Linked DNA regions of Homo sapiens. The protein of the gene in region 1 interacts with the protein of each later gene in a pairwise test. Each region holds a gene or a part of one and is shown in the gene's direction. Other genes may lie near its edges.

Region 1 (10,240 bases):
GTGAAGAGGTCATTTAGTAAATCGGCTTTCAACGACTTGCCCTATGAGATTTCTCTAGAGTGAGCATTTTCTTGGGTTAAATGTACATTTCATTTCCATAATGAATACTCACTAGCGGCTAGATGGGAAACTTCCCAGGAAACCAGGAGCAGCCAGAAGAGCCTCTTAATAATCAGGCAATTAAAAACCCTCTGGTTTCTTAACAGGAGGGAGGTACAGACGGCATCTGCTCTGCAAGGCGCAGTGATCGGGCTCAGCATTGTCACAGGAGCTCTTGCGGTTCTGTTTGTTGCTAGTGTGACATACACAGCCATTCATCGGAAAAAGGACTGAGTGGTCTTTGGGTCTCCCATAGTTGATCATCATATGTCGTGATAACCCATGACAACTCCTTGCCACATGCCACGGGAGGTCCAGCACTCCAAGAACCCAGCAGCCAGGGCCGGCTTCATAGGCTTGCAACCTGGACAGTCCCACAGGGACACAGAAGAGTCCCCACTGTGGTTTAATAATCTGCCATCACCATCTTCAAATTCTTTATTTTTTAACAAGGGTGGCCAGGGATAGTGGCTCATGCCTGTAATCCTAGCACTTTGGGAGGCCAAGGCAGGCAGATGGCTTGAGCCCAAGAAGTTTGAGACCAGCCTGGGCAACACAGCAAGACCCCATCTCTACAGAAAATACAAAAATTAGCCAAGCGTGTAGTCCCAGCTACTTGGAGGCTGAGATGGGAGAATTACCTGAGCCCAGGGAGGTCGAGGCTGCAGGAGGTGAGATTGTACCACTGTACTCCAGCCTGGATGACACAGCGGATTCTTGTCTAAAAAAAATAACCACAAGGCCGTGCACGGTGGCTCATGCCTGTAACCCCAGCACTTTGGGAGGCTGAGGCAGGCGGATCACTTGAGGTCAGGATTTTGAGACCAGCCGGCCAACATGGTGAAACCCCATCTCTACTAAAATAGAAAAATTAGCTAGACAAGGTGGCGCATGCCTGTAATCCCAGCTACTCAGGAGGCTGAGGCAGGAGAATAGCTTGAACCTGGGAGGAGGAGGTTGCAGAGAGCCAAGGTCGCGCCATTGTACTCCGGCTTGGGGCACAAGAGTGAAACTCCATCTCCAAAAAAAAAAAAAACCACAACACAACAAGGGCCCCGCATGTGACTGAAAACAACAGAAATGTATTGTCTCGCAGGCCTGGATGCCAGAAGCCCAAAATCAAGGTGTCGGCCGGGCTTCGCTTCCTCTGAAATATGTAAGAGAGAATACTTCCTTGCCTCTTCTGGCTTCTGGTGGCCGCTGGTAATGCTTGGTGTTCCTTGTAGATGCATCGCTCCCATCTCTCCTCCCTCATCACATGGCTGCCTTCTCCCTGTGTCTCTGTCTTCACCTGACATTCTCCTCTTTTATTTTTTTGAGATGGAGTTTCCCTCTGTCACCCAGGCTGAAGTGCACTGGCACAATCTTGGCTCACTGTAACCTCCGCCTCCTAGGTTCCGGTGATTCTCCCGCCTCAGCCTCCTGAGTAGCTGGGATTACGGGCGCCCGCCACCACGCAGTGCTAATTTTGTGTTTTTAGTAGAGATGGAGTTTCACCATGTTGGCCAGGCTGGTCTCGAACTCCTGACCTCAAGTGATCCACCCACCTCACCCTCCCAAAGTGTGCTGAGATTACAGGCATGAGCCACCATGCCCGGCCCTCATTCTCTTCTTTTATCAGGACGCCGGTCATTGCATCTGCCTCCTCACCAGCAGCCCCCAATCCAGTACGATTCATCATTACTTGATTACATCTAGAAAGACCCTATTTCCAAATAAGGTCACATTCCTGGGTACGGAGGATTAAGATTTCCAATTTTTTCCCTGACTCAATTTTTTTTGAGTCAGGGCCTCACCCTGTCACCCAGGCTGGAGTACAGTTATGTGATTATAGCTCACTACAGCCTCAAACTCCTGGGCTCAAGGGATCCCTTGACCTCAGCCTTCCAAGTGGCTGAGACTACAGGCGCACACCATCATGCCCAACTAATTTTTTTGGTTTTTTGTGGTTTTTTTGTACAGGTTAGGTCTCACTCTGCTCACTCTGTTGACCAGGCTGGTCTCCTGACCTCAAGTGATCCTCTTGCCTTGGCCTCCCAAAGCACTGAGATTACAGGCGTTATCCCGTGCCTGGCCCTCTTTCTACACCTCAGTCATTGCATCATTAGCCTGAGCTGCGCATATTCCTTATTCTACCCATCCCTGACCAACCTCCTCCTTTAACATAACTTCCACCTCGATATCATGGGGCCTGCTGGGCACTGCAAACAGCCTAAGGAAAGTGGAAACTTTACTTAACCTTCAATTCTATTGCAAAGTCCACATTGAACGTAATTTATATTTGAACTATAAAATTTTCTGTAAGTTGAAACATGACCTATAAAGGTCTCTACACCCTGAAGCAACGTTTTAGAAAGAAATCAATTGGTCCTTTTCTGCAGAAACCATTAACCATAGGAGAGATAAAGGAAAAACTTCAATGGACTGATTGAACTTCCATGCCCATAGCTTAACTTCTAAAAGGCAACCATTCCATACTGTTAAACTGCCTTAGGTTGTTATTACTGTTATTAAAGAGACCCTCAAAGCCGGAAGTTGAATCTCGACTGTAGTTCTTGCACGTACACGCAAACTCTTGCAACTGAAACCAGCTTGTCCTGATGCTGCTCCCCGTAGCAACACCGCCTGGAATTTCACGTTTGTTTTTAAGCATCAGTCCTAATCTTCACTTGCACCCGAACACACCGCACCTGTGACAGCCACGTGACATTAAAAAAATCCCTTCAGTGAGGCCGGGCATGGTGGCTCACGCCTGTAATCCCAGCCCTTTGGGAGGCCAAGGCAGATGGATCATGAGGTCAAGAGATTGAGACCATCCTGACCAACATGGTGAAACCCCGTCTCTACTAAAAATACAAAAATTAGCCGGGCATGGGGACGCGTGCCTGTAGTCCCAGCTACTCCGGAGGCTAAGGCAGGAGAATCGCTTGAGCCCGGGAGGCAGAATTTGCAGAAGCCGAGATCGTGCCGCTGCACTCCAGCCTGGCGACAGAGGGAGACTCTAGACTCTCTGAAACAAAAAAAATCCCTTCAGTGCCTTGATCCTTCCAGATTCAGATCCAAGAGAGATGACATTTGTCCCTCATCTGAACCCGCACACCAAGATAAAGATTTCTTCTGGCCAGGCGCGGTGGTTCACGCCTGTAATCCCAGCACTTTGGGAGACAGAGGCGGGCGGATCACCTGCGGTCAGGAATTTGAGACCAGCCTGGCCAACGTGTTAAAACCCTGTCTCCACTAAAAATACAAAAATGGCCCGGCATGGTGGCTCACGCCTGTAATCCCAGCTACTCGGGAGGCTGAAGCAGGAGAATCGGTTGAACCCGGGAGGTAGAGGTTGCAGTGAGCCGAGATTGCGCCATTGCACTCCAGCCTGGGCAACAAGAGAACGAAACTCCGTCTCAAAAAAAAAAAAAAGAAAAAAAGATTTCTTCTGTGCTCATGGCTCAGCTCTGTGGTCTGCTAGGGTCCTTCCTCAATCTGCTTGCAATCTATGGAATCAGGAAAGACTGAACCAACCTAGATTTATTAATATTTTAGTATAACATAATACAGTGTTACTTATTACAGCATTGACCGTATATGCCCTTTTGCTCCTTGGAGGAAAGGCAATTAATAGCTATTATGTGAGTTAATAAAATAAGCCCAGGATTTATGAGTGTAACTAACTTGTTACCATTGGTTTTCCTTGTCTCCTGCAGGCAGAGAGCTGATCAAAACAGCAAAAGCAAAGCAGTGCCCCTGGCCCAGTTCTGAAGCCAACCTTCCTTAAGCACCCAGACCCATCCCTGGTTAGGACTTGCTGTGGATTATCAGGTGACTCTATCTCAGGATACAGGGACTGAGAGGGTGTATGCAATATCTCAGACCCAGAAACTGTTGATTCTGTCTAAAAACACAGCAATAACCACATCCCACCCTCTTGATTTAAATGAAAGTGTTTGGGGGAATAAAAGATGAACCTTTTTTTTTTTCTTTGTCAGATCTTGAGCTCATTTGGTTCTGGTGGGGAACAACAGCTATGCGAGAACAAGTGTATTCTATTAGAATTAATTCCCCTCTTATTCTCATAGCTGAGCAGGGCTCAAGAGCCTCTCATCTGAAAGAGGTAATAAGATTTAATCTGTCTCCTCATCTACCTTCTGCAAGTATACTTTACAAATTAGCTCTCGGGACTCTTCCAAATGGAGTTTTATGAGGGATTTGCTAAGGTAAACGTTTTAGACTTTGAACACAGTTCAGATTTCAGGGGCAGTACTGAAATCTGAACTGTGTTGCTAACTGCCCTGCCTTTCAACTCAAGACACAATAACTTTGAACTAAATTAATTATATTTTTGTTGTTTTCCACTCTGTCCCCACGTCTATATCACCACCACCCCCAATCCCACCCCGCAGGAGCTAACTCCTCCTTCCTGTCCCTGCAAGATCAAAACTCCTCCTGCAAGCCCCGCTAGCTCTGTCTGCTCGCCTTCGTGGCAGATATCGCTATTGTACTTTTATACTCATTTGTGTGATAAATACTTCAATGTCCACTTCTTCCACGAGCCCCTGAGCCCCTGGAGGGCCTGGACCACACCTAGTTTTTCTCACCGTTACATCTCCCTTGTCAGGTACCTGGTAGGCGCTTAATAAGTATTTGGTGAACGAATGGCTTGTTTGGTGACAGTCCAAAGGCTGGGGGACAGAGGGAAAGCTCCCTCCTTTCGGACCCCAGACGGGTGGCGCTGATGGAGAGGAGGCTTGGATAAGGCCTCCAGGACCGAAGCGCGCACCCGTAGGGCCCCTGCCAAAAAGACCTTCCTGAAGGCGGAGGAACTGCGAGAGTGCCTACGTTGGCCCAAGGCCTGACCCGACGATCCCAGGGACCCTCGCCCTAACCGGCCCCGCCTCCCGGTCCCCAAACCCGGACTCGGCCCCGCCCTAAGCTCCGGATCCTGGGGCCCGCCCCTGGCCCCGCGTCGGCAGACCGTGGCCTCGCTGCTGGGCCTGCCTCAAACCCTCCACAGGTAACGCCTCCCGAACTTGAGCCACATTCCGATCCCCTCCTCAAACCCCTCCCCGTTTCCCACGCCCTGGACCCCTCGCTCCGTCTCGGCCCCGCCCCAAGCCCAGCTAGGTCTCGGCCCCTGAGCCCAGCCCCGACCGGCCTCCCAGTCCCTGGGTCCCTCCCGACACCGGCCCCTCCCTAAGCTCCGCCTCCCAGGGCCCGCCTCCTGAGCGCAGCCCGCAGCCCGGACTCGGCCCCGCCTCCCGGACCCTGGGCCCCTCCCCACGTCGGCCCGTCCTAAGCTCCGCCTCCCAGAGTCCGAGCACCGCCTGGCCATGTGCTACGACATAGTCAACGCCCCGCCCCGGCCCCGCCTCCTGAGCTCTTCTCTGGGTCTGGCCTTAGCGCCGCCCTAAGACCTGTCTCCTGGGCTCTGCTCCGAGTCTCGCCTCCTGAACCCAATGGCGTTTATCCCTGCCCTAATGCCCGCCTCCAGGACTCTTATCCTGCCCCCACGCAAGGCCCCGCCTCCAGGACGCCACCAACCTGGACGCTTCTGAAGCCCAGCTTCCAGGATCGCCCTATCCTGGCCCCGCCCCAGGACCCGCCAACCTGGACTCTACCCAGGACCTGCCCCCTACCCAGGACCTGCCCCAACGACGCTTATCCTGGCCCCACCCCAGGCCCCGCCCTCATAACAATCATCCTGGCCCCGCCCTAGAGTCCGCCCCCACGACGTTCCTCCTGACCCCCGGGGGACCCCCGGGCCCCGCCCCCTCTCTGCCCCCGCTCACTGCCCTGGGCCCGCCCCCTCTTCAGTCCAGGCCGGGCTTCCGCCCGGTCTGCCGGCAACGCTGCGGCCCCGCCCACGTCATGGCGCCCGAGGAGAACGCGGGGACCGAACTCTTGCTGCAGAGTTTCGAGCGCCGCTTCCTGGCGGCACGCACACTGCGCTCCTTCCCCTGGCAGGTGGGCGGCGGGGCGAGCGGAGAGGCCCGCGGGGCTCGCGGGAGTCCAGGGGCAGACGGGACGGGTCTCCGTGCTGAAGCCCCTGGCGCTCCCGCCACGTGAGTTCCTGGGCTCCCGCCGGTCAGGGCCGCGCGACCCGGTCCCCGTCCCTGGGGCCTGGCCAGAGTCGCTCGCACCCCTCCTGCCCCGCGAGCTGGCGGGGGAAGCTGGGGGCGTCTCCACAGCCTTGGGGGGCAGACGCGCGCTCGGTGTGGGGTACAGTTCACGATCATTTTCACGACTTTTTAAAGGCAGTAATCGTTCTGGTCACTGGGACACAGCTGCCCTCGCCCATTCTAAAAAGTCAGCGCCGTCAGGACCGCAGGTAACCACGTCCTCCTGAGCGCGGTGACCGGGTCACAGGCTGTCCCTCGTGCCTCAGTATTCTCATCTGTATGTTGAGCACTGCACAGAATCGGCTCATGCTCTGAGGCTGTCACGCCTGTGATGGAAGAGACAGAGAAGGGGGTGGCCTCTCCTCGCCCTGGGGACCTGCCATTCTCAGCACAGGCCCATGGCAGGCAGCAGCCTCCCTTCTGCCAGCAGAGGGGCTTAATGCACCCGGCCTCATTTGTAATTCATGTGCGGTGAGCTCACTGGGATGAGTGAGTTTGGATATATATTCCTCCCTGGGTCTGCCCCATTTTATGGGGTGTTGCTTAATCATTTGCGTTATTCCATTGACATAAAATATTTGCACTCAGAGATCATTTCTGGTCAAGAGAAATTCGTGCATTTTTAACCCAAAATAGAAACCTTCATAAAAGCATCATAGGTCTCCATTCAGTATTGACTGTAATTGTTCACATGCCCACGCTGAATGCTAACTTGGGCTCACCCTCAACACCCACGAGGTGGGTACTATTATTACCACTCACATTTGACCAGAGGGATTGTTTGATTAGGGTGCAGTAGTTGAGAGTTCAGACCCAGGAGACAGCCTGTCTGCTTCGAATCCTGGCCCAGCCCCTGGCCCTGTGTGACCTTGGGCAAGTGACTGCATCTCTCTGTGCTGTTTTCTTATTAATAAAATGGGGGATATAATGATACCTACCTCTTAGGGTTGTTGTCAGGGTTGAGTACAAAAGCCTGTGGATCAGTGCCTGGCTCATGGTAAATACATGTTGGTGTTAGCTAGTGTTTTTATTCAGTCTCAAAATGTTTAATAAATGCCTTCTGTGAGCCAGGCACCATGGATCAGCAGTACCCATGACAGATGAGGCTCTGCTTGCATGGGAGAGCCAGAGAATAAACAAATAAATAAACAAGAAAAGACCAGATGACAGTGGCTTTAAAGCCAATAAAACAGGGAAATAGTGAATGCGGGAACTGGGAAGAAGAGTCACCAAAGTCAGGGAATCAGGGAAGCCTTCCCCAAAGAGGTGGCATTTGAACTGGGGCCTGAGTGGTGAAGCAGCCAGCCATGGGAAGGGCTTGGGGAACAGGATATGCAAAGGCCCTGTGGTGGAAACAAGCCAGCTGTGGTTGAGGAACAACACCAAGGCAGCCAGTGTGGCTGGAGTGGAGTGAGCAGGGTGGGCCAGGGGTGAGGGAGAACAGGCCAGAGAGAGGGATTAGGACCAGGTCTTGTAGGGCCTTTTATGGCATGGAGGGAGCTCTGAAGCAATGAAGTGCCTTGCCCTGTGTCACATACCAGCCGAGACAGTCTGCCTAACTCGGGAGCCAAGGCTCGCTGCTGGGCTTGAGGCCCCTGTAAGAGGATAATGTAACTCAGGCTGGTATGGGCACATTCTGCATCTCCACTTAGATGGCAAGCCCATCAAACCTTGGTGCCATGGCTGCCCTGGTAATTCCTGGCTGAGCAGTGCAACCAGGGAGCTGGCCCATGACCCGGGTGGCCGCTAAGTAGCCAGGACTAATGTGGCCAAAAGTCAGCCTTCTTCCTGTGACTCATCCAGGTGCACCCTGCGACATCTGAATGTCAGGCTTTCAGCCGCTGTGGCTTCCACTTCCAACTGGCTCCACGTCCCCAGGGAGGGATCACACAGCGCTTTGCCAACACATTCTATTGCGTGTTTAATGTTCCTGTGAATGCGCCCTTGAGATTTCTCTCTTTCCCCTCCACACAGAGCTTAGAAGCAAAGTTAAGAGACTCATCAGATTCTGAGCTGCTGCGGGATATTTTGCACAAGGTAAGAATCCCAGAGTCCCTGGGACTCATGACCCTGCCTCCTGAATCTCTCCAGAAGACCTGAGAGAAGAACTGCAGGTGTGCTTGTACCCTTTAAAAACACCCCTGTTCAAAAAACAAAACCATTGAGTCAGCACTGCAGGTGGGTGTCAGCACCTCTGACAGCTCCAGCGCTTTCGTTTTCTATTTAAGACTTAGACAAAGACTTCAGAATATACAAAAACCTGCAATGAGAGGGGGGAATCTAGGGAATGTTTTTTAAACCATCCACAGCAAAAACAGAGATGACAGGTGCAAAACAGCTTCTAGCATTTGGTTGATGTTCAGAGACTTTCTTTTTTGCTTTCATGAGGCCTGTCCTGCCCACTCCTGTCTCCTCTAGACCTAAATGGGCCCTTGCTTTGCCCAGGGTGGGGTTTGGACTCAAGTGCATCTGCCTGCAGGTGAGAGGCAGGATCACCACCCGGCCCAGCCACAGCCTGACCTTGGCCTTGAGGGCCAAGTGCAGATCACCCTGCATCCTGGGTCTTCACGTTCGAAGGGCCATGAGCCCTTCTGAAAAGACCAAGCAATAGACTCCCTCGCAGAAAGAAGTGCACCAGAAGAATACATTTTCCATACAAACTCAGGAGGCAGATATCCTCCACCCCCACCCACCCAGCCCATCCTAGGAGCCCCGGTGAAGAATTCCTGTGCTAGAGGTGAACCAAGATTATCCATGTGGAAAAGATACAGCCACAGCAGGGAAAACTTTCGGGGCAATACCAGGGCTTCGAGCATGGAGATACCTGAAGTTATCTCGCACCCTGCTCTGAGTTTCACCCTGAGCCTCACTCTCGTAGGTGGTGAAGCATGAAATGTAGGGAGAGCTGCTTTAAAACCCAGCACAAGGCTGGGTGCACTGGCTCACACCTGTAATCCCAGGACTTTGGGAGGCTGAGGTGGACAGATCACCTAAGGTCAGGAGTTCCAGACCAGCCTAGCCAACATGGCAAAAACCCATCTCTACTAAAAATACAAAAATTAGCTGGGCGTGGTGGTACATGCCTATAGTCCCAGCTACTCAGGAGGCTGAGGCAGGAGAATCGCTTGAACCCAGGAGGCAGAGGCTGCAGTGAGCCAAGATCGGGCCACTGCACTCCAGCCTGGGCAACAGGGCGAGACTCTGTGTCAGAATAAATGAAAAACCAGCACCAGCCTGAAGAGCCTGTGTATTGCGTGGGGTACTTTGCTGCCCTTGGGCAGAATCTGCATCCCTCCCAGCCAGCAGGCACTGTGGACCGTCTCCTCCCTCTCCCTCCAGGCTCCTGTTTTCCCGCCGTCCCCACTCCTGCTGCACCAGTCCCTCTGCCCTCCTTTCCAAGTGCCAGGCTGTGGCCACCTCAGAGCTTGCACCAGCTGTTCCCACTGCCTAGAACTTGCTCATCCTGCATTTGGCTTCTCTGGGCTTTAGCTGGAGTGTCACCCGGAGCGTCCCGTCCCCTCCATCCTGTCCCCAGGGACACACACTCCAAGAGAGCAGTTGCCGAGTGGGCCTTCCCGCCTCTTCCATAGAGCCAGACCGTTGGCGACTGTCCTTACTGCAAACCCTGGTTCACACTGGCTCCCCTGGGAGGGAGGCGGTTTGGGCCCACATGCCCTGTGTTCCTGCTCAGAATGGGCGTTAGAAATGCTGCCATAGCCTGTGCCACTGCAGTGGAAGCATTTTTAGGAAACAGCTTATATCTTAAGACAAACTTCAGATGCATGGGGCCAAAACGCTGTGTCCATCTACATCTTTGCTGAGGGATCGGGTAGCCTGGAGTTTGCCCTCTGCTGTGTTGGCTTGAAGCTCATAGGAGACTTAAGACGGGCTCTCGAGCAACCAACGTTCTGTCCTTTGCCGTAGACTGTGAAGCATCCTGTGTGTGTGAAGCACCCGCCGTCCGTCAAATATGCCCGGTGCTTTCTCTCAGAACTCATCAAAAAGGTCAGTTATGGGCAGTGTCCGCC
Region 2 (4,821 bases), on another chromosome or scaffold:
TGTTTGCCTTGCCTCCTTCCTCCCGAGTAGTCCTTCGGGTCCAGGTCCCTCTTGGGCTCATCGTGTGCATTTCTCACCATTTCTCACTCCCTCCTGCCTCAATGAAAGGTCCTCAAGTTTGAGTGGCGACAGCAGCATATGGTGACTTGCATTTATATAATCTAAATTTTGTTCCTTTTTTTTTTTCTCTTTCTCTGTCTGCTAAGATGCTGGATTTGAGATTCCAAACTTATTTGTGGTGGGATATGCCTTAGATTACAATGAATACTTCAGAGATCTGAATGTAAGTCTTGCATGCAAATCCCTAACCGCCCTTTTTATAAGAACTTAACAATTTAAAAAAGTATTGAATGCGTGTTAGTGATGTCTGCTATTGATTGAGTATCTTCTATGTCAGGAGTATGGTGAGCACATTGCATCCATACTCCCAATTAACTCCCACTACTATTCTGCAGGGTAGGTATCAGGATGATAGAGGCAAATTATGATTATCTCTATTTTGTACTAAAGAAATAGGAAGCTAAAAGCAGAACTATGGTTTGACACTGATTCTTCTCCATAGTCATTGACTGTGCCCAACCAACCATAACAATAGCCAATATTCTATACACTGGTTTGTGTCAGTGCTTGAACTCTAGCAGGTTTCAATTACAGTGGCATGCAGCTCATAACTCTTCCCTCTTTGGGGGAAATGATCTCACCACACAGACGTGGACCCCCAGTGTGGACCCCAGCTGTGTGACCCTGACCAACACTGCATGATCTAGAGGTAGACAACTTACCCATAGTGGACCAATCAGTCTCTCTGTCCTGGGAATTAGAAATTTAAACCAAAAGTCACAGAGACTGAGTGTGTTCAGACTTCAACCACTAGGATAGCAGTGCCCCCAGAGAGTATCCATAGCACCATGGGTGAAAGTCTCTGGAGCTGCCCTTGTTCCTGCCTTCTAGTTGCTTCATTGCCCAGCTCATCCTTGGATTCTGAGAGCTACCCCAGTATTCCACCAATAAATTCCCCCTCCCCCCTCTTTAAAGACACAGGGTCTCACTCCACAGTCTCACCTAGGCTAGAGTGCAGTGACGCAATCATAGCTCACTGCAGCCTTGAACTCCCAGGCTCAAGCGATCCTCCCGCCTCAGCCTCCTGAGTAGCTGGGACTACAGGCACACGCCACTATGCCTAGCTAATATTTTTACTTGCTGTAGAGATGGGGTCTTCGTATGCTGTCCAGGCTGGTCTTGAACTCCTGGCTTCAAATCATGCTCCCACCTCAGCCTCCCAAAGTACTGGGATTACAGACAGGGGCCACTGAGCCCATCCAAATCCTCCTTTTTTGCTTACATTAGCCTGGCCCCATTTCTGTTGCTTTCAATCAAAATATTCCTAACCCTTTGCTTGTTGCCCAAAAAGGGTTGAATAAGAGCCCATGTTGTGCTTGCCACTGTTATTTCTCCATTCACCCAAGCAGTTGTCATCTTACCAGTAGGAGACTTCTGTTTCTAGCAGGGCTAAACATACAGCTCCCTCAGCATTTCTGGGTTTTAGGGACCTGGGGAGCCGGATTCAGAATAGGAATCTCCAAACTAAACCACAAAGGACCTTTTGTCAAGCACTTGAATGGGTCTCTTTAGATTTTACCCACACATATAAATACACACATTTCTATTTAAATGATCAATAGCCAATTACAGGATGGCATTCGGTTATTACTGCATCACCTTTTCTGTGTCTCATATTTTGTTAAGAAACTGATGCGTTTAAATCCTTTATTGTTTCAGCACATATGCGTCATCAATGAGCACGGTAAAGAAAAATATCGAGTCTAAAGACATGAATTCTCACCACTAAAGTCCCAGATAGCATCATATTTACGCCTGTACTTGGGAAGCCAGCTGTCAAGTTTGTCCCCCCAGGCATCTTCACTCAGCAGGATATAAAAGAAAAAAATGTTCAAATGAGAGAGCTTTCTTTTCTGAGGTTAATATAAAGAGTATCAAAGGTTCCTAAGGAAAAGAAAGCAGTGCTTTTATTTGACTTGTTCCAAATTAAACACTCCGCCTTGTGACTCAGCAATGCTATCTACCTTCACACTCCTGAGCTCCGCCTTCCTTTGTTTTGATACAGTCATTATATTTGATTAGTATTCCCAGGAATACCCCCACCTAGTTACTCAAATATTTTTCACTTAACTTTTTATACTCTTATTTTGGTAATAAGCTTACAATATTAAGAAGCTGGGGACTTTTTTTTAACTGAAGACTTGAGTCCCCTATACCGGGAATGCAGCTATTAATAGATTCCCATATTTTAAAAGGAGGGAAAGGACAATTTAATATAAATTTCTGTTTGTGCATTTCTGACAGGCCATTATTATCTGCTTTGACAAAGCCTTTCTGAAACGCAGTGTACAATGAATCTTAATGATGTTATGAAACGAGCTTTGCTCGGGGCTCTTGATTGGAGCTTCCGGTATGTGATGACGGTATGTCATGTATGCATGGATGTACTCAACTGTGTTTAATACTCTGAATTTTAATTAGAAAAAAATACAATAGCAGCAAGGCCCTGGTTTCTAAGCTGTATCCTTTTATTCATGTGGGACATGAGCAAATGGCAGAATTAGGGGCGAGTGCTTTCAATGCTCGAAACTAAGCAAGTATAAATTTTTCCTCTTATTTGCATGAAAGGACAAGACACTGTTATGCCCTGTCCTAAATGTGAAGACAGAGGTTGAATTTTTTAAAAAATATCTTTAAAAGACTGATCACAAAATCCAAGGTGCTACAGGAAACAAGCACACTCAAGAAAGTTTTTTTCTGAATAACATTTTTTTCCAATTTCTCCGTTTTATAAGACATTTCCTAATTTATGGGGATTTTAATTGAAAATAAACTTGAGTCCCAATAGAGCTGTTTTTTTCTCACTTCCTACAAAATGCAAATGCAAAATAAATAACTAAGCAGCTTTTGTTTGGTTCTGAACCGTATGTGGCGTATTGTTATTAGGTTCTAGCTTCCTTTAAACTAATAAAGAATAAGAAAACTTGTTATGTTTTATCACTTCTTACTGTTTTTCTTCCGCCTCCATATTTTTTAAATACTTTCAGACATTAACATGTATGTGAGTCAGTAGCTTAAATATACGACTGCATGTATCTATCCTGCGGCTTTATTTTTGTTAACTTGGATTAAATCCAATATATGCACTAGTAGAAGCAAATGATTAAGCTGGGCTAGATCTGCTGCTTTTTTTTTTCCTCAAGCTCGTTTGTGAGAACAAGGAATTTTAGTTGTAAAAGAAGATTTTCCTGCATATCTTTGTTTCGGTCAGAGAAGAAAACAAGCCACACCCAAATATCCCAAGGGATAAGTCTGCAAAAGGAATCTCTTCTAGCTTTGTTTCACAGAAGCATTGGTACCCAAGCTTAGATTTATAATTGTGTCTGACTGACGAATTTCTTGAAATACCAAAATTAACACTCTGAATATAGCTTTTTTTTCACAATGCCATGTTTATGTCAGAGGACCTAGAAAAATCCAGGCACACATTTGGTTTTAAGTGTAAAATTATCCATAAGTATGCAATATGAAAATGTTTTCTTAAAAACGTTGAATTTTAGTAAGCATCAGTATCCTTTCTGAGGACAGTCTGTTTATTCAAATTAGAAAGGAGATTGATCTACCTCACAAGATTGTGAGGACTTGTATAGTTAATGCTGAAAATTCACTAAATATGCAAGAAGTTTAATCATGCTTGCAGTTTTTTCCTACCAGACAATATTTTGACAGTGATAGCCAAGAAAGTCATCTTGGGAAAAATAGTATTTCCTTTTCTCTTGCAAAACTCATGTCTAGTTAATATCACTGAGTTTATTCACTCTAAACCAAAAATGCAAAACTTATTACTTGATTAATAACAAATCCATTATTAATTTAGTGTTCCAAAGCTGATTTGTAAGGGGGAAAATGTGTATGTGTGTGTGTGTGTATGTGTGTGTGCGTGTGCGTGTGTGTATGTGTGTGTGTGTGCGTGTGCGCGCGTGTGTGTGTATTTCACTGGGAAGTTTGGAATCAGTTATAATCAACATAATTAGTAATATTTTGGGATTTTCCAAACAAATTAGAACCCCTCATTATAAATTGGTCCTTTCTTACAGGGACTGGAATGTACTCATTTTTGACCCACGGACCCCCTAGATGTAAATGGCAAATAGTCAAATCCCGACATACCTTGTTTAATCTTTGCGTATAAGATGGCTTGCCATGTTTCAGGCCTTCTGAGACTGTGAAAACAGCCTTTCAGAGCACAGTCAGGCATTTGCTCAGCCTTCTGTGAAATCAACTTGTGTCTTCCCAATGGAGAGAAAAAGCAGGCTATTCCACATCCAGAGACCGGGTGTCATGGAAATATGCCCTCCCTTTTGTCATAGAGGTAGTGTGTTCTAGGAAGTTGAAACCCCAAACCACGCTCTCCACCCAGTTATCTGACTAATTTGGGCAAACTTAGCATTTGGGAGTTTTACTGACTTTGCAATCGTGAAGCTCCTTTGGATCCCAAGATGACAATTGAGAGCTAACAACAAGCCAGTTTCAGGAAGGGAAGAAGGGGATCTCAAGAGGGGCCTTTGCACGCTGCTGAGGGGAGGTGTGCAGAAATAGGAAGAGGGTGTGCATGGAGAGGGCTGCATTATTTCTTGGCCAGTCATACACCCATGATGGCTTCTGAGCCCGGTGCAAAGAGGAAGACTAAGACACCAGCCTAAAGAGCTGCATTCATGGTTATCTTTGTGCTGCATAGTGGAGCTGACAGGCCAGCTGTTC
Region 3 (6,604 bases), 2.0 Mb from region 1:
GCATTTTGCTCTAGGCCTGGCTCTGGGGACACAAGGGTGTGCATAGAGCCAGCTCCAGAGTGGGGCGAGAAGGTGGAGCTGTCCGGGGCCTCTGCTACCTTGTGGGATGTTGGGTCCTTCACATTGGATGCATCTGGGGAGGTTCTAATGAGTGGCTGGGGGATGGGGTTCTGCCTTTGGCAGGAGGGTCCCCAGCTACCCCCTTGCTAAGTGGCTGTGATTCTGGCCTTTCAGGGCTGGTTCTTGCCTCGTGAATGATCGGGGAGCATCCTTGGGCACACAGCATTACCTGGTATCACATTCTCCTCCGGACTTTTCCTGGGGCACCATATTGGTCTCCTTCCCACACCCCAGCATCCTGAGGGTCATGTCCTGTGTCTCCTTCCCAGGGAGTAAACTCTGTCTCCCCCGGTCTGGTCTCGGGCTGATGAGCATGTTGTGGTTCCTGCACAGGATGTGCCCTCGGAGGAGGCGGAACCCGAGGCTGCAGGCCGGGGATCCCAGGCCACGGGGCCTCCCCCGACGGTGGGGGCACGGAGGCGGCCGTCTGTTCCCCAGGAGCAGCACAGCCATAGCGGTGAGTAAGCCTCCGTTCTTGTGGACAGTCGAGTGGCTGGGCAGGGACCTAGCTTTGTCACCGGCGTTGCCCTAAGGGTCACAGGCAGGACAGCTCCCTCTGTGAAGTCCAGGGCGTGTGTGCATGCGCACAGGCTGGGGAGGCCATAGGCGTCGGTGTCAAGCCTGGGCTGGCCTTTCTAAGGCTCCATTCTTCTCCTTCAGCCCAGCCTCCTGCTCTTCTTAAAGAGGGTCGTCCCGGAGAGACGACGGACACCTGCTTTGTCTCTGGGGTCCATGTGAGTCACCAGTCCCTTTGTCTTCTTTAAGGCACTTGGCCCTGTTGAGTTTGTAAAATGGGACTTGCTGTCCCATCAGGCCTCTTTCATCTGACCCATCCTGTCCCCGCCAGTGCTGCTGGGAGGCCTGAGCCGGGTCTTCTCACCCCATTCCAGGGACCTGTGGCATTGGGAGACATCCCATTCTATTTCTCCCGGGAAGAATGGGGCACCCTGGACCCTGCTCAGCGGGATCTCTTCTGGGACATAAAGCGGGAGAACTCCCGGAACACCACCCTGGGTAAGCACCCAGGGCCTTTGGGTCCAGGCTGGCCGCCCCCGATTCTGCTGGAACTTCAGTCTTGTTTCCCACCCCATCCTTAGCTGGTTCCAAAGCAGGCTCTCCCTAGGTCTTGCCAGGAGCCTGAGTAACTCCTTTCTTGGCTGATGATCAGTTTTTGTGCGTTTCCACATGCAGCATGGGACGGCGCCGGCGCTGCCCAGCCCTGCAGTTGCTCTAAGGGCAACTTCTCCTTTGAGTCTCACAACCTAGTGCATGGAAGTATTGTCCCCATTTTACGCATAAGGGACCTGAGACTCAGGTCAGTGGATGCTGAAGGGACACAGCTGGGACTTGGATCAGGCACAGTTGTGAGGCCACCTTGGGCTGCTAGGAGCAGGGGTGCTGACGGGGAACCCCAGCTGCTCACCAGCCTGGGCCCCTGCTCGTCAGAACTGCACTTACCAGGTTCCTCTCCATGCCAGGCCCCTTCTCAGCACCATCAGGGATCATCTTGTTCAGTCACACTCCCAGGAGGATGGGCTGCGACCTCTGTCCAGATCTGTGTTGAGTTTGGAGAACTAGAGCCTGCGTGGTGAAGGGAGCCACACTAGCTAGACCAGTTTGGCTCCTCAGTTTCCGACTGTGACGGTTGGGAAAAATTTTCTTTCTTTTTTTTTTTTTTGAGATGGAGTCTTGCTCTGTCGCCAGGCCGGAATGCAGTGGTGTGATCTCAGCTCACTGAAACTTCCACCTCCCGGGTTCAAGCAATTCTCCTGCCTCAGCCTGAGTAGCTGGGATTACAGGCATGAGCCACCATGCCCGGCTAATTTTTTTGTATTTTTAATAGAGACGAGTTTTCACCATGTTGGTCAGGCTGGTCTCGAACTCCTGACTTCATGATCCGCCTGCCTCAGCCTCCCAAAGTGCTGGGATTACAGGCGTGAGCCACCGCGCCCGGCCCTTGAAAAGTTTCAGAATTACTATAAATCTGTTCTGCTGTGGAGCTTGATATCTGGGGTTCAGAGTGGGACATTGGATCCCAGTGTGGCCTGCAGGGCACAGATGGCTTAGGGGGCTGGCCCATGCAGGCGGGATCAGAGGCTTATTCAGACTGCTGCTCTGCCGAATTTTTTCATCATCCCTGATTTATTTGGGTTTTTGTTTGTTTTTGAGACAAAGTCTCGCTCTTGGAGTGCAATGGCATGATCCCGGCTTACTGCAACCTCCGCTTCATGGGTTCAAGTGATTCTTCTACCTCAGCCTCCTGAGTAGCTGGGATTACAGATGTGCGCCACCATGCCCTGCTGATTTTTGCATTTTTTAATAGAGACGGGGTTTCACCATGTTGGCCAGGCTGGTCTCGAACTCCTAACCTCAGGTGATCAGCTCGCCTCAGCCTCCCAAAATGTTGGGATTACAGGCTTGAGTCACTGCGCCTGGCCAATCATCCCTGTTTTATAGATGAGGAACCTGAGAATTCAGCTGTGTGAACCCAGGGCTTTCTGAACCTGGAGGCCAGGGAGCTTTCCCCAGCCTTGTTTCTTCCTCACCTCAGCTCTGGCCCCAGAACCGCGTGGGACTGAAGAGGTCGCCTCCTTCCCCTTGCAGGTTTTGGGCTCAAAGGCCAAAGTGAGAAGTCCCTGCTGCAGGAGATGGTGCCGGTGGTGCCAGGCCAGACAGGCAGCGACGTGACTGTGTCCTGGAGCCCCGAGGAGGCTGAGGCCTGGGAGAGCGAGAACCGGCCGAGGGCGGCCCTGGGCCCAGTGGTGGGCGCGCGACGGGGGCGGCCACCCACTCGCCGGCGCCAGTTCCGGGACCTGGCAGCCGAGAAGCCGCACAGCTGCGGGCAGTGTGGAAAGCGCTTCCGCTGGGGCTCGGACCTGGCGCGGCACCAGCGCACGCACACGGGCGAGAAGCCACACAAGTGCCCTGAGTGCGACAAGAGCTTCCGCAGCTCCTCGGACCTGGTGCGCCACCAAGGCGTGCACACGGGCGAGAAGCCCTTCTCCTGTTCCGAGTGCGGCAAGAGCTTCAGCCGCAGCGCCTACCTGGCCGACCACCAGCGCATACACACGGGCGAGAAGCCTTTCGGCTGCAGCGACTGCGGCAAGAGCTTCTCGCTGCGCTCCTACCTGCTGGACCATCGGCGTGTGCACACCGGTGAGCGGCCCTTCGGCTGCGGAGAGTGCGACAAGAGCTTCAAGCAGCGCGCGCACCTCATCGCGCATCAGAGCCTGCACGCCAAGATGGCCCAGCCCGTGGGGTGAGCAGCTGGCTTGGCCGGAAACCCGGGGGAGGCCCAGCCACGGCACATCCTGCTTTGTTCACCACTGGGACTCTCCTTCCATCTGTGGCCACCTCCCGGGCTGTCCGAGGGACCCCAGGGTACCTCACACTCGGAGCTCGCCTGCCCTGCTTGGCTCTGAGGACCTGCCCAGCGCTCAAAGGGAACGGAAGCCTTCCCCTCCCGCCCCCGATCTTGTCCTCTTTCCCCCTTCTGCGCCTAGCGTTCCTCTTCCCCTCTAGTTTCCTGGAGCCCCAACACATTCCTGGCAGGGACAGCAGGGTGGCAAGGACTCAGGTCTAGGTCCCTTCCCAGAAGCCCCCGAGCCTCATTTGACTGTGTGGCTCTTTGGCCCCCACCCTGTGGGGTGGGTCCATGGGTCAGGCCTCTGCCCTACCAACCTGTGCCTTTCAGTGGGCGTGGAGGACTGGCCTTGGCCCCCCAGGGGGCTGCTGGACTTTGGGAGAGACAGCCCACACCTGTGGGACCGCGGGTCTTAGTCACGGCGGCAGGGGCTTTCTGGCCCCCTCCCACTCCCGTTTCCAGGCCATGACCACTCTGCCCTGTCCTGGCCATACGGACTCGGCCTGCCTTTGCCCTCGGCCTACTTGCCCTAGCATGAGGCTCTGAGAGCCACCTGCCCACCAATCTGGTGAGGATAATGGTGGCTCCAGCGACAGGAGGCCAACCCTGGAGACCAAGAACAGGGCGCCTGGCTGCCATCTTTTCCTCCAGAGGTGGGGCTGCACCAGACTCAGCACTAGCACTCCATCAGCACTAGCACCTCACTCCATCAGCACTAGCACCTCACTCCATCGGCCCCGGCACCCTGCTCCATCGGCACTGGCGCCCTGCTCCATCGGCACTAATGCTCCACTCGGCGCCCCACTCCATCGGCCCCGCTCCATCGGCACTAATGCCCCACTCGGCGCCCCACTCCATCAGCACTAATGCTCCACTCCATTGGCACTAACGCCCCAACTCCAGCGGCACTAATGACCCGCTCCTTTGACATTGGTGCCCCACTCCATCAGCACTAACGCCCTGCTCCATCGGCACTGGTGTCCCACTCCATTGTCACTAACGTCCGGCTCCATCGGCACTACCACCCCGCTCCATCATCACTATGTCCAGCTCCGTCGGCACTACCACCCTGCTCCATCATCACTACGTCCAGCTCCAACGGCACTGGTGCCCCATTCCATCGGCACTAACGCCCCGCTCCACCGGCACCAGTGCCTCGCTCCATTGGCACCAACGCCCAGCTCCACCGGTACTGGCTCCCTGCTCCATCGGCACTAACGCCCTGCTTCATTGGCACTTTGCTGCTGCCTCCTGAGCACTGCCTTCCATGAACAGGGACAGACCAGAGGCCCTGCAAGGACTCCCCCTCAGACCTCCAAAGGGCAACAGAAGAGTATTAATAAACGTGAAAACTTACCTCCAGGCTGTTCTGTTCTTTCGGTAGCTGGAGGGTGGGGATACCTGGAATATATGCCCCTTGCCCTGGCCTTGTGTCCTGGTGGCACATGCTGCTGCACCGTGACCAGGCGGAGCTGCGTCCTTGGCGTCCAGGTCGGCTGGGCCCCAATGGGCAGCCGTGTCCCCTGGGACTCTTGTCCCCCTGTGTCAGCTAGTGCCTGCCCTGCTCTGGGAGCACCGTCGGTGCTCCAGCAGAACGGGGAGCTGAGCAGGACTCAGGGTCTTCACCAGGCCACTCCTCTCCCACAACTGTGAAAGGAAGAAGGGCCCATAGACGCTGCTTGGTCAGTGGTGGGACCCTCTTGCTGCGTGTTGGGGATCTGGAACTCAAGGCTGCCCCAGGCTGAGTCCCTTGGAGGAGGGGCTGACAGCGGGCTTGCCCTTCCCACCAGCCCCTGACATCCAACTTCTCCCTACCAGGAGCCCCAGGCCGGGACCCACCAAGGGCTGGTGGGTGCGTGGTCAAAACTAGTGATCATCCAGGCACGACCCCTCCTTCCACCCATGCTGGTTCCTTCTCTTTCACCTGCTAGTGGCCTCAGGGCCCCTGGCTGAGGGGAGGCGGGGGCCGGTGGACAAGACGCTCTGGTCCCTTGGTAACAGGTGTGCATGTGCCAGCCCTCTCTGCCCCTAGGCCTTTCTTAGCCAACCTTCCATGCACACATCATCCTGCGGTCACTGTCATGGTCTCCGTTTCCCGTAAGAAGCAAGCAAGGTCTCGCTGTGGACAAGGCTGATTCCAGTTGGTGATTTTTACCTCTGGGGGCCTGGTGCTGTGTGCATGCGTGTGGCGGGTGGCCGGGATGGTACAAGGACTTCTTGGTGGCGGTGGCTGGCTCCAAATGGAGACACTCGGGTGTAACGAGATCAGATAAGCACGTAGGCCAGGAGCTAAGAATAGGATTGAGCACAGGTTCCTGGCTCGGGTAGGGGCATGTCAGTGCCAGCAAAGAAGTCACCAGCAGGAGCCAGAGAATGAAGCCCAGGCTGGGAGAGCGGGGCCAGGACCCAGGGTTCCAGGGATGGGGCAGAGTCCAGCTCAGCTCATAAGCAGAGCTGATAGTACTCGTTAGGGTAGAGGGCAAGGGTTAGGACCCAGGGCACTGAGAGCCCAGGGCCAGGAGGTGAGCTCCGAGCTTGGTGCTTGGAGGAAGCCCCGTCTCGCCCTATGGCCTTCCTGGTGGCTGGGACCCTGCGGCTGGCCACGCAGATGGCAGACACTCGAGACAGCCTGGGGAGAAAGGTAGCAGGAGGCACCGCCTAGCCCAGCTGCTCCTGCCTCCCTGCTGAGCCCCAGCCCAGCCCAGCCCAGCCCAGCTCTGGCCTTGCCTCCCCAGGGGAAGTATGACGTCCAGGGTCCAAGGGCAGCCCTGATGCTCAGCAGCCCTGGGGTGGCGGCCGCTGTAGTCACTGCCCTGGAGGACGTGTTCCAGGCCCTGGGCTTTGAGAGCTGCGAGAGGAGGGAGGTCCCGGTCCAGGTGAGCCTCTGCCTCTTACATCCACCCTCAGGCCCAGCACCGACCCCTTCCCCACTCTCCCCTGACCCAGAATCTCCTCCCCACCCAAAACCTCCCCGGACTCAGGTCGGTCTCACTCTTGCCCCTAGGGCTTCCTCGAGGAACTGGCTTGGTTCCAGGAGCAGCTGGATGCCCACGGGCGCCCTGTGGGGTGTGCCTTAGTGGCCTTGATGCCCCCAGAGGGCAGCTGAGGCAGCCACAGCAG

The links. The genes of interacting proteins can lie anywhere in the genome.
Region 2: the proteins of EEF2KMT (region 1) and PRTFDC1 interact in binary tests that used the Homo sapiens proteins (3 or more experiments, as listed by UniProt).
Region 3: the proteins of EEF2KMT (region 1) and ZNF213 interact in binary tests that used the Homo sapiens proteins (3 or more experiments, as listed by UniProt).

What each region holds. Positions count from the first base shown.
Region 1 is NC_000016.10:5,093,461-5,103,700, reverse strand, and holds the start of EEF2KMT (protein-lysine N-methyltransferase EEF2KMT), read left to right. Parts: upstream 1-5,905; 5' UTR 5,906-5,961; coding exon 5,962-6,057; intron 6,058-6,347; exon of another isoform or gene 6,348-6,421; intron 6,422-8,186; coding exon 8,187-8,249; intron 8,250-10,136; coding exon 10,137-10,217; intron 10,218-10,240. UniProt on the Homo sapiens protein: Catalyzes the trimethylation of eukaryotic elongation factor 2 (EEF2) on 'Lys-525'.
Region 2 is NC_000010.11:24,846,850-24,851,670, reverse strand, and holds the end of PRTFDC1 (phosphoribosyltransferase domain-containing protein 1), read left to right. Parts: intron 1-206; coding exon 207-283; intron 284-1,779; coding exon 1,780-1,827; 3' UTR 1,828-3,057; downstream 3,058-4,821. UniProt on the Homo sapiens protein: Has low, barely detectable phosphoribosyltransferase activity (in vitro). Binds GMP, IMP and alpha-D-5-phosphoribosyl 1-pyrophosphate (PRPP). Is not expected to contribute to purine metabolism or GMP salvage.
Region 3 is NC_000016.10:3,137,965-3,144,568, forward strand, and holds the end of ZNF213 (zinc finger protein 213), read left to right. Parts: intron 1-389; exon of another isoform or gene 390-453; coding exon 454-577; intron 578-780; coding exon 781-854; intron 855-1,010; coding exon 1,011-1,134; intron 1,135-2,671; coding exon of another isoform or gene 2,672-2,724; coding exon 2,725-3,383; 3' UTR 3,384-4,840; downstream 4,841-6,604. UniProt on the Homo sapiens protein: May be involved in transcriptional regulation.